3 linked regions of the Homo sapiens genome follow. The protein of the gene in region 3 interacts with the protein of the main gene of each other region in a pairwise test. Each region holds a gene or a part of one and is shown on either strand. Other genes may lie near its edges.

Evidence for each region. Proteins that work in one complex are often made in the same cells at the same time.
Region 1: the proteins of MEX3B (region 3) and RAP1GAP interact in a two-hybrid assay, tested with the Homo sapiens proteins (one large-scale study listed by BioGRID and IntAct).
Region 2: the proteins of MEX3B (region 3) and NUDT3 interact in a two-hybrid assay, tested with the Homo sapiens proteins (one large-scale study listed by BioGRID and IntAct).

Annotation. Positions count from the first base shown.
Region 1 is NC_000001.11:21,666,558-21,670,572, forward strand, and holds the start of RAP1GAP (rap1 GTPase-activating protein 1), read right to left. Parts: upstream 2,801-4,015; 5' UTR 2,697-2,800; intron 2,037-2,696; exon of another isoform or gene 1,954-2,036; intron 1,267-1,953; exon of another isoform or gene 1,041-1,266; intron 1-1,040. UniProt on the Homo sapiens protein: GTPase activator for the nuclear Ras-related regulatory protein RAP-1A (KREV-1), converting it to the putatively inactive GDP-bound state.
Region 2 is NC_000006.12:34,288,170-34,291,669, reverse strand, and holds part of NUDT3 (diphosphoinositol polyphosphate phosphohydrolase 1), read left to right. Parts: intron 1-2,738; coding exon 2,739-2,917; 3' UTR 2,918-3,500. Other genes in the region: RPS10-NUDT3 protein, read left to right, coding at 2,739-2,917. UniProt on the Homo sapiens protein: Cleaves a beta-phosphate from the diphosphate groups in PP-InsP5 (diphosphoinositol pentakisphosphate) and [PP]2-InsP4 (bisdiphosphoinositol tetrakisphosphate), suggesting that it may play a role in signal transduction.
Region 3 is NC_000015.10:82,043,219-82,047,478, reverse strand, and holds the start of MEX3B (RNA-binding protein MEX3B), read left to right. Parts: upstream 1-1,460; 5' UTR 1,461-1,773; coding exon 1,774-2,029; intron 2,030-2,865; coding exon 2,866-4,260.

The DNA.
Region 1 (4,015 bases), on a different chromosome or scaffold from region 3:
CCCAGGATTCTTGGGGCCAGTCAAGCTGGGTCCACATGAATCAGAAAAGAGGGAGGAAGGGGAGGCTTTGCTGGGGACGGTCGGGGGCCTCCACTCCCCTCCCCGGGTGATGAAGCATTAACATCCCACACGCAGGAAGCTGATGTAATTCATGCGTGTGTGCACCCATGATGGCCTGGGTGTGGGTGGGTGCATGTGCGTGTCTGCCAGGTTCATTTTTAAGGGCGTAGGGCATCCTCGTGTTCTTCCTGCATGCGCGTGTACCATGTGTGCACCCTGGAGGAGATAATGGAGGCAGACGACAGAAGACGAGGGCTTCTGAAAAGGCTCTTCTCCTTGCTGACAACCTCCGTCTCTCTGTGTGTACACACGTGCCAGCATCTGGATGGTGTGACTCTCAGTGCTTGTGTGTCAGGCAGAGTCGGGGGCAGGGGTCTTGGCCTGGGTGTGCCCGTGTGTTCCTGTGTCTGGGTCTCAGGGTATCTGTCAGTCTAACTGTATTTGCGTTTGTGTCTGGCCGTGCTCAGGTCTCGGTTGTTTGCACAGCACATGCGGCTGCTCAGCAGCCTCTGACAGCCAGGACAAAGGCCTCCGTAGACAGATGGCAGCATGGAGGACAGATCTGCCCGAGGAGTCCTCAAAGGGCCTCTTGGCCCCAGAATTTGACAGCAGGGCAGGGGCAGGGCCAGGTGAGAGGGAGGTGGAGGCCCTGCTGTGGGAGCCTGAGGCCTAAGTGGCAGAGACCTCTCTCCCTGCTGCCCTCCAAGAGGCCAAAGGAAGAATCCTTCTTGTCTCCTAAGGGTGGAAGGTAGTTAGAGCCAGGAGAGGGGCCTCCTGAGACCCCTGCCAGGCAGGCACCTTGGGAAGAAGAGAAGAGGAGAGGGCTTTGCCCAAGCAAGCTGGGAAGGTCCCAGGGTGAAAGCACCATTATGGTGCTCCACGGGACAACCCTCCCTCCATGGGAAGGGGTGGCAAGGCAAGCCTAGGACTCTGGACCCTCTCCTCAACCTGACCCAGCTTCCAGCCACAGGCACCCTCACCTCCTGGCAGCAAAGGGGAGCAGGTCCACATGGACCACTCCACCACGGCGTTCACCCTTCCTCCTCTCCACCGCTGTGGAGATCTTCTCCCATCAAGAGTCAGAGTACCACGATTCTAGACCTTGCTGAAGGTGACTAGGTGACCTCAGGCAGTTCATTTAGCCTCTCCGAGCCTCAGTTTCCTCACCTGTGCAATGGAGGCTTCAGCGCCTGCCCTGAAATATTGCTGTGAAGGGGGAAATTGCTCGTGCCACCTGAGGATTAATCATTACCCTGGAACCCTTCCCAAGGCCATCAAGGAACACGCACCCCTTACCAGACCTTCCAGCTGCTGGGGGCTCTCAGAGTGAGGCTGAGGTCATGGAGAAGGGAATGGGGGGCCCCCATGGCCAGCTGGACCTGATCACTGCCTCCCCACTCAGCCACAGCCCTCAGGGCCCTGTGCCAGTCCAGAAGCCCATTCAGGGACACCTTTGGCCAATGTTCTGTTTCATCTGCGAGGCAACCTTCCCCAGTGCCCCAACCATAGCGTTTTCCCCCAAACACCCTCAGGAAGGAGGGACCACTACCTGTGCAGGGGGGGCCAGGAGCCTCCTGAGAGCCTCATATGGGGAGGAAGTGGTACCATCTCACCCCCATTGCCTTTCTCTCCTACTTCCACCTGGCCAGCTTCCCTCAGTGCCCCTCCTGCCTCAGTGCCCCTTCCCTCAGTGTCCTTCCTGCCTGCCGCCCCAGGGGCCTGACCTCTGACTTGGCAGGGAGGGGAATGGAGCCCGGGGACAGAGGCCAATGAGCCCTGAGAACAGTGGATGTTCTTCCTGACCCCACCACCGGGCCTGTGCTATGACCCCAACAAGGACTCCGAGGGCATGCACAGGCTGGGGTCTGTTATGGTAGGGAGGGGGCCGCTCACCTCCGGAGACTGTGTGTGTGTGCAGGTGTGCGTACACAAGGTTTCTTCCCCAAGCCCAGGCGCCCCGCAGCTGGCACCAAACCCTGCAGGGCACGGAAACCGCCCCGTGAATTCCCACCGAGTCCTCAGATCCTGCCGAGCCAGGGGAGGCGACGAGGGGGCGCCCAACTTCGTGACGCGTGTGCCCCGCTCTGCCGCGGGGGTCAGGGACAGGGGAATGCGTCCTGTCTCTGGGGATGCAAGGACATCACCGCCCTCCCCGCTCAGGGTCCTTGATCTGAGGCCCCCACTTCCCTCCTCTGAGGACAGGAGCGCCACCCTCTGGGGGGCGCTAGGGCTTGGGCCCCTCCCCAGGGATGGAGGAAACGCGCCCACTTCCCACAGTCCCTCCTCTAAACCCCAGGCGCCCCCACCTCGAGGTGGGCGGAAAACTGGACTCCCCACCCACCCAGGGGGGTGGGACCAAAGCCCCCTGGCCGCGGCCTGGACCAAGTCCAACAGGCTGGGGGTTCAGCCGGCTCAGTCCAGGCCTCCCCCCACTTCTCCAGCTGCTGTCAAGACCGGGCTGCGCGAGCCCAGCTGCGCCCACCCCTCGCCCCTGGAGACCCGGGTCCCCCACGCGTTCGCCCCCACCCTCCGTCCCCGCCCGCCCGCGCGGGGTCTTCGCTGCGAGCCGACGGGAGTCTGGACACCTCTGTCCCCTTCCCCTTTCCAGGGCCGCAGCCCTGGCGGGGCGCACTCACCCAAGGGCCTGGGCCGGGGGCGTCCTGGGCTCGGCACTCTGGTGCCCGCGGCCGCCGCTGCAGCTCTGCTCAGATGCGGCCGGCGCTCGCCGCCGCCGCAGTTCGGGGAGGGGGACGTCACATGACCGCGGAGCGCTCCTTCCCCGGCGCCGCTCCCCACTCACTGCGGAGCCCAAGCCGCGGGCGCGGGAGCGGCGGGGAGGCCCCCGCCCTGCCGCCCCGCCCCGCCGCAGGTCCTGGAGGAGGGTTCTCGGTGCCCCCATTTTACAGGTGGGGAAACTGAGGACCAGAGAGGGGCAGGGACTGGCTCAAGGTTACACAGCTAGACAGTGGCAGAACCTGGGCGACAGCCCAGCTGTCCAGGCAACAGCTCATGCTCCAAGGGGACTGGGACAACTTCTGGATCAAGTGGAGACGTCGGGATAGGTGGGGCCCACGGCCCCCATGGGCTCCGCTTGTCTGCAGGCGCGGGAGGAAGGCGCACAGGCTTCGCTGGGCGAGAAAGCTGCTGTGCCCTGGCTGACGCCCTCCTCACCCGGGCGCTCGGCGCGCTTCCTGGCAGAGGCCACGCGGTTGACCCTCGCCAGCCCATTCGCGGCTCTTGGACTTTGTCTCTGGACTGGGCAGCTCGCCCCCGCCCCAGCCTAACCCGGGCCCAGGGCGGGTGTGGGGAGGGGAGCCACAGGCTACGGAGAAGTGGAAGGGAGGCACCCGGAAGAGAGTGGGATCAGAACAAGAGTGAAAACCCAGGCAGGGAGGGGGCGGCAGAGATCACCTCGGCCTGACTTCCAAGGCCCAGGGAGAGTTAGAGACTTGCCCAAGGTCCACAGCAAGTGAGCGGCCTGCCCACTCGAGTCCCTTCTTTGATGGTCAACAGAGCCTGAGGCTCCTGTGCCCCACTCCCCACCAAGGGGGAGCCCTCACCCACACCTCTTTCTGTTCTCCACTGAGCTCCCTCCCCGGGGAACAGCCCACATGAAGCAAAGAAACACGCAGTGGGTCGGCAAGGCCAGAACTGGGGACAACGGGTGAGGGGTATGGTTGGTGGCTCCAAGGTCATGAACTCGTCACAGAACACTCGTGTTCCAGGGGGATCTCTGAAATCTCTGGATCTCACCCCAATGTTCTAAGAACTGGGAAAACAGGCTGCAAAAGGTACAAAGACAGACCTCTTTCTCAACCATTTCGAATTGGTGGGTCAAGCCGACAGGGCCCTCCAAGGTCAACAAGTCCAATAGGCCCACTTGACAGATAATATTTAGGGAGGGGAAAGTCCAAGACATGTACTCAATATATTTCTTGAGCATCTACTGTGTGCT
Region 2 (3,500 bases), on a different chromosome or scaffold from region 3:
TTAGCCAGGCATGGTGGCACACACCTGTAATTTCAGCTACTCAGGAAGCTGAGGCAGGAGAATAACTTGAACCTAGGAGGTGGAGGTTGCAGTGAGCCAAGAATACACCAATGCACTCCAGCCTGGGCAACAGATAAGACTGTTTCAAAAAAAAAAATTTTTGTCAATGTTAAAGAAAAGCTAATATTGGCAGGAATGTGGTGAGACTGACATCCTGACATACACAAGCAGGACTGGGGATCAGTGTCGCCTTTCTGTAAAGCACTTTTGCAGTATAAATCAGGAGCCCTTGAAAGTTCAGAAGCTCTATTTTTGTAGTTCTTGTGCTAGATATCTTTCCCTAGAAGGTTAAAAAGAAAGAAAAAACGGGGAACGTTTTAAAAAAATAGCATTATTTATAATAATTAAAATCACTGGGCATGGTGGATCACGTTTGTAATCCCAGCACTTTGGGAGGCCAAGGCGGGTGAATCACTTGAGGTCAGGAGTTCGAGACCAGCCTGTCCAACATGCTGAAACCCCATCTCTACTAAAAATACAAAAATTAGCTGGGCGTGGTGGTGTGCACCTGTAGTCCCAGCTACTTGGGGGCTGAGGCAGGAGAATTGCTTGAACCCGGGAGGCGGAGATTGCAGTGAGCTAAGATAACGCCACTGCACTCCAGCCTGCATGACGGAGTGAGCCTCCGTCTCAATAAATAAACAAAAATTAGCTGGGTGTGGTTGTGGGCGCCTGTAATCCCAGCTACTTGAGAGGCTGAGCCATGAGAATTGCTTGAGCCTGGGAGGCAGAGGTTGCAGTGAGCCGGGATCACATCGCTGTACTCCAGCCTGGGTGACAGACTGAGACTCTGTCTCAATAATAATAATAATAATAATCACAGACAATTGATGTCCAGTGATATGGAAATGCTTAAGTGAATGATAATACATCCATACTAGATACTATGACATAATGCAGCCATAAATGTCTTAAAAAAAAAGACAGTCTCACTCTGTTGTCCAGACTGGAGTACAGTGGCATGATCACAGCTCACTGCAGCCTCAACCTCCTGGGTTCAAGCAGTCCTCCTGCCTTAGCCTTTCTAGCAATGGCAATGTCTCATATTTTTTTCATAATATAGATTGCTTAAGAAATAGTGTGACATAGGACAGGTGTGGTGGCTCATGCCTGTAATTCCAAGTACTTTGGGAGGCTAAGGCAGGAGGATCACTTGAGGCCAGGAATTTGAGACCTCATTTATACCAAAAAAAAAAAAAAAAAAAAAAGAAGCAGCAGCAGGTGTGGCACGTGCTTGTAGTCCTAGCTACTTGGAAGGCTGGGGCAGGAAGATCCCTCGTGTTCGGGAGCTTGAGTTTGCAGTGAACTATGATCATACCACTGCAATCCAGCCTGTGAGATCCTATCTCTGGAAAAAAAAAAAAGAGAGAAAGAAAAAGAAAAGAAAAAATAACATGAAGTAAAAACCAGTAACAAAAATTAAAAAGCAAATTCAGCAGCACATTCTTTTAGCAGCCAGTTACTCTTCAGGTGCTTTCCATACTAATAGTCATAACAGACTTGTGAGATAGGCCCTATTTATTGTCTGTTTTATAGATGAGGAAAATGGAGCAGGAACACAGCTACCTGAGGCTGCACAGCTCATTGGAGCCATTTATGTGATTGGAGCCCAGCACTTTGGCTTCAGAGTCCTTGTTCCTGACCATAACACTCTAGCAGAGCTGGTCAGGATTCAGAGTACCTGAAAGCATGATCCAATTTTGGTTGTCTCAAGATTGTTTCTTTTTCAAGTATATGAAAAAAGGGCAGTTGTGCTAGGGTATTGAGAGTGGTTTTTTCTGGTTTATAAGATTATGGGTAGTTATTACTTTTATAAGATAAAAAATATAAAGGATTTTAAAGCATGGACTAGAAAAGAGTAAGAAAATAGACTGAAAAATAAAAGTGTGATTGTATTGAGATTATTTTTACTTCTTTTAAGAAATATTTTCTATTATGTAGATAAATTCACTCTTATAAGAAAACTTTTAAATGAATTACTGATTACAAACCAGCCATCCTAGTAATTCTGGAAGCTGATGCTCGTGTTGATTTTTCCCCCCTTGGGACAGGGTCTCACTCTGTCACCCTGCTGGAGTGCAGTGGCGCGATGACAGCTCACTGCAGCCGCGACCTTCCGGGCTCAGGTGATCCTCCCACCTCAGCCTCCTGGGTAGCTGGGAGTACAGGCACATGCTACCATGCCCAGCTAATTTTTGTATTTTTTGTAGAGACAGAGTTTTGCCATGTTGCTCAGGCCAGTCTCAAACTCCTGGGCTCAAGCGATCCGCCCACCTTAGCCTCCTAAAGTGCTGGGATTGTAGGCGTGAGCCACCTCATCCGGCCCTCATGTCAGTTTTTACAGGAGATGGGGATGCTGCTGGGCTTTGATCCCTATGTATGTGCAAGCAAGGAAAGCTCAGAGACGCAGGAGGGCAGGAGGAAAACACTAGCCGTAGTTCTCTCTGGAGGGCAGGTTTTACACAATTACTCTTAGCTCTTTGGTTTTCAGGTTTCTCACCTTTCTGCATTAGACATTGATATAATATTTGAAGCATATGAAGTGTGCTTGAGTTATTTTTGTAAGGAAAAAAAGTGTTAAGAAACATTGCTTTAATGTTTTCTATATTTTCTCAAAAGTTCTAGGCTCAGAAACCTTATTACTCTTGTACTAGTTTCTTTTCTCTCTGCCTCCACAGGAAGGAAGAGGGAATGGTTTAAAATAGAAGACGCCATAAAAGTGCTGCAGTATCACAAACCCGTGCAGGCATCATATTTTGAAACATTGAGGCAAGGCTACTCAGCCAACAATGGCACCCCAGTCGTGGCCACCACATACTCGGTTTCTGCTCAGAGCTCGATGTCAGGCATCAGATGACTGAAGACTTCCTGTAAGAGAAATGGAAATTGGAAACTAGACTGAAGTGCAAATCTTCCCTCTCACCCTGGCTCTTTCCACTTCTCACAGGCCTCCTCTTTCAAATAAGGCATGGTGGGCAGCAAAGAAAGGGTGTATTGATAATGTTGCTGTTTGGTGTTAAGTGATGGGGCTTTTTCTTCTGTTTTTATTGAGGGTGGGGGTTGGGTGTGTAATTTGTAAGTACTTTTGTGCATGATCTGTCCCTCCCTCTTCCCACCCCTGCAGTCCTCTGAAGAGAGGCCAACAGCCTTCCCCTGCCTTGGATTCTGAAGTGTTCCTGTTTGTCTTATCCTGGCCCTGGCCAGACGTTTTCTTTGATTTTTAATTTTTTTTTTTTATTAAAAGATACCAGTATGAGATGAAAACTTCCAATAATTTGTCCTATAATGTGCTGTACAGTTCAGTAGAGTGGTCACTTTCACTGCAGTATACATTTATCTACACATTATATATCGGACATATAATATGTAAATAAATGACTTCTAGAAAGAGAAATTTGTTTAATTTTTCAAGGTTTTTTTCTCTTTTAATTTGGGCATTT
Region 3 (4,260 bases):
GCAAAGGGCGCGGCGAGCCCGGCGGCTCCCGGAACAAAGGACAGCAGAGCGCGCGGGGCCCGAAGGGGCGTCCGCCCTAGTGGGCGGCGGAGGGGGATGCGCGCGGAGAGGACCAGCGCGCACCGCCCCGGCCCGCCCCTCAAATCCTCCTTCCTTCTCTCTCGCACTCGGAGACGGTCCCTGGGAGATCCGGGAGGGGGCGCAGCTCGCCGTCCTCGCCGGCAAGTGCCGTCGCAACCTCCCTCTGCCGCCACCCCCACCCCGAGAAGCGCACAAAGAGCGGCCGGGCAGGGAGCGCTCACCTCCCGTCGGGGCGGGGCCGCGGGCGGGGCCGGCGCGCGCTCCGCAGCGCCCGCCTTAAAGGGCCCGCCCGCTCCTCGCGCGCACTGCGCATGCTCGGCCGCGGGGCACGGAGGGGAGGGATGGGAACAGCGGGCGCGCACGCCCGCGCCGCCCGCTGGCGCTGTGGCCTGCGTCCCCGCGGTGGCGGCGCGGCGCTCGTGCGCGTGTCAGAACCCGCAGGGTCTCGGCCCGGGCGCCGGGCGTGTGCTGGACACTGGTGCCATGCATTCCAGAGGTCGCCAGCGGCCGGGCGGGCCGAGCTCGCGCGGCAGCCAGCTTTTAGCTTTCCCATCCTCAGTTTCAGGGCCAGTTGGGCGAAGTGCTGCCCAAGGAGACAGAAATGCAGGCGCGGGCGCGCGCGCGCGCGGTTGCCAGTGTGGGCGGGCGTGTGCTTTTGTGTCTCGTGCGCTCCCGCGCAGGTGGACAACCCGCGCCGGGAGTCACTCTGCCCGTGCGCCCCAAGACCTGGAGTCCCGTTTTCCGTGTCGGAGGGCTCGGGTCGCCCTTTTGGGCGGACTACAGACTCTTCTCACAGAGGAAGCTTTGGCTCCACGGATGGTTTATTTGGAGCCACTAACGGGACTTCCTGAGGACCGCTCTTTTAGAGCCCGGCTCCAGGCATCAGAGTTGGGCGCGTTTTCTTTTCTCAGTCAGGCGAGGGAGGAGACTTAGGGACAATGATTGTCCTCGGCTGATAGGTACATCCAAGTGTCCCGAGCCTGCCAGTCCCGCATTAGACAACAAAGAGAGGCGTTAGCGGCGGCGGGGGAGGGGCGCGGCCGGGAGGAGGACGGGGCGGGCTGCGGCGAGCGCGGGGGTGGGGGGTGGCGCTCTCTCTCCGCTCGCTCAACCCGCGGCCTCCTCCCGCCCCCGGCCTGGCGCGCGCCAATCGCCTCCCCCAGCGATAGTGTCAGTAGCATTGTGGTGTCAGCTCCCGCCTGTGACGTTGCGCCTCCCTCGTCCCCCTCCGGAGTCGTCTGGCTGCAGAGGCTCAGTCAAGAGGCGGGGAGGAGAGGAGGAAAAAGCGCTGAGTGAGGGCGGGCGGGCGGGCGGGAGGGAGGGAGTGGAGGAGCCGGGGAGGGGCTCCTTAAAGAAACGCTTCTGTCGCTCGCCTGCTCGCTTTTCGCTCGGCATTGCGGCCAGCCAGCCGGGCACTCGGGGGGCACGCGCGGCCACCGCTAGAGCTCTGCCCCCACCCCACCCGCCAGCAGGTCTGGGGTGGGGACCCAGGTGGGGGCTCCTGCAGCCACTGCCCGGTGCGGACCGCACGGAGCGACCCACTCCTCCCAGCACCGAGGAAGAAGCAACGGAGCCCTCAGCAGGCGACCGGCCTCCCCGCCCCTGACCACCCGCTTCCCGGCTGCCTTTGTGGCCGCAGCTTCTCGCCGCCGAGCCGAGGGCCGGCGGGGGCGCGGCGCGCACGGCCGAGCGATGCCCAGCTCGCTGTTCGCAGACCTGGAGCGCAACGGCAGCGGCGGCGGCGGCGGCGGCAGCAGCGGAGGGGGAGAGACCCTGGATGACCAAAGAGCCCTGCAGCTCGCGCTCGACCAGCTCTCCCTGCTGGGGCTGGACAGTGACGAGGGCGCCTCTCTGTACGACAGCGAGCCGCGCAAGAAGAGCGTGAACATGACCGAGTGCGTGCCAGTACCCAGTTCTGAGCATGTCGCCGAGATCGTGGGGCGGCAAGGTAGGTCGAGGAGGGATGGGGAGGTGGGTGGGGGTGGTGTAGGGTCTCAGGCCACTGCCTCGAGGGGAAGGCGTGTTCAGTATCGGGATCCGCGGCGTGGGGTGCCTTGGGGAGAGAGGAAGAGCCGCGCGATGGGCCGGCGCCCCAGACAAAGAAAGTGCAGGCAGGCTGTCTCCCGGAGCCGCGCCGCTGCCCTGGCGGGATGCACTTTCTTCTGCTAAAATCACTGCCTTCTCCCCTAACGCCCCCCAACCAGCCCACCTCCAGAAAGACAATTTAAATGTAAGATGCTTGGGGGAGGGGGCCTTTGATCAGTCCTTTGGGAGGAGGAAGGAGGAGGAGTGAGCATAGGATGGGAGGAGGATTCTGGATTTCTGCAAAGCGGAATGGAGCCCAGAGGAGGAACAATGGGTCCCGGGACTCACACCCCACCCCCTACCCCCAGTCGACCAGCGCTGAGGCATCGCGACTTCAGCTGCCTTCCCCGAGCCCCTTCCCCGTGTCTTCAGAGCTGACGGCGCGCCCAGCTGGATCCCAGCGGCATCTCCCCAGATGACTTTTCTGGGATTCTCGGGTTTGGTTCGGGACGACTGCAGTCACTGGGGGAGGGCCAGGCAGCCAATGGGCTGTTCCTCGAGCGCCTCGCGGGTGGGATCCGCTGCCCAGCCCGTGGCGCGGCCCGAGGTCAGTGAGGGAGACGCCCCCTTTCCGCCCATCTCTTGTCCTGCCGTCTCGCTGTCCTGGACGCGGGCTGTCCCCGGTCCCCGCGGTTACCCCAGGATAATGGGCGTGTCTGTCTCTCTCTCCCACTCCCTCCTCCGCACCCTGGTTCGTAGGTTGTAAAATCAAAGCGCTGCGGGCGAAGACCAATACTTACATCAAGACCCCAGTTCGCGGGGAGGAGCCTGTCTTTGTTGTGACGGGCAGGAAGGAGGATGTGGCCATGGCTCGGAGGGAGATCATCTCTGCTGCCGAGCACTTCTCCATGATCCGCGCCTCCCGGAATAAGAACACGGCACTCAACGGCGCGGTGCCTGGGCCGCCCAACCTGCCCGGGCAGACCACCATCCAAGTGCGGGTACCCTACCGCGTGGTGGGGCTCGTGGTGGGGCCCAAAGGCGCCACAATCAAGCGCATCCAGCAGCAGACGCACACGTACATCGTGACGCCCAGCCGGGATAAGGAGCCGGTGTTCGAGGTGACCGGCATGCCAGAGAACGTGGATCGCGCTCGAGAGGAGATTGAGGCGCACATTGCTCTGCGTACCGGCGGCATCATTGAGCTCACAGACGAGAACGACTTCCACGCCAACGGCACCGATGTGGGCTTCGATCTGCATCATGGGTCCGGCGGGTCCGGCCCAGGCAGCCTCTGGAGCAAGCCCACCCCCAGCATCACGCCCACCCCCGGCCGCAAGCCTTTCTCTAGCTACCGCAACGACAGCTCCAGCTCGCTTGGCAGTGCTTCCACAGACTCTTATTTCGGCGGCGGGACCAGCAGCAGCGCAGCGGCTACCCAGCGCCTGGCGGACTACAGCCCCCCTAGCCCCGCCCTGAGCTTTGCGCACAACGGAAACAATAACAATAACGGCAATGGGTACACCTACACAGCGGGGGGAGAAGCCTCAGTGCCATCCCCCGACGGCTGCCCCGAGCTGCAGCCCACTTTTGACCCGGCTCCCGCTCCCCCACCTGGGGCACCACTTATCTGGGCCCAGTTCGAGCGGTCCCCGGGAGGCGGACCTGCAGCTCCGGTATCTTCTTCCTGCTCTTCTTCTGCATCTTCGTCTGCTTCTTCCTCCTCCGTGGTCTTCCCCGGGGGTGGCGCCAGTGCGCCCTCCAACGCCAACCTGGGGCTATTGGTGCACCGCCGGCTGCACCCTGGCACCAGCTGCCCGCGCCTGTCTCCACCCTTGCACATGGCCCCGGGGGCGGGAGAGCACCACCTGGCTCGCCGGGTGCGCAGCGACCCGGGTGGAGGAGGCCTGGCCTACGCCGCTTATGCCAACGGGCTGGGGGCACAGCTGCCTGGCTTGCAGCCGTCGGACACGTCGGGCTCCTCCTCTTCGTCCAGCTCCTCCTCCAGCTCTTCATCCTCTTCCTCCGGGCTTCGGCGTAAAGGCAGCCGCGACTGCTCCGTGTGCTTCGAGAGCGAAGTGATTGCCGCGCTGGTGCCCTGTGGCCACAACCTCTTCTGCATGGAGTGCGCCAATCGCATCTGTGAGAAGAGCG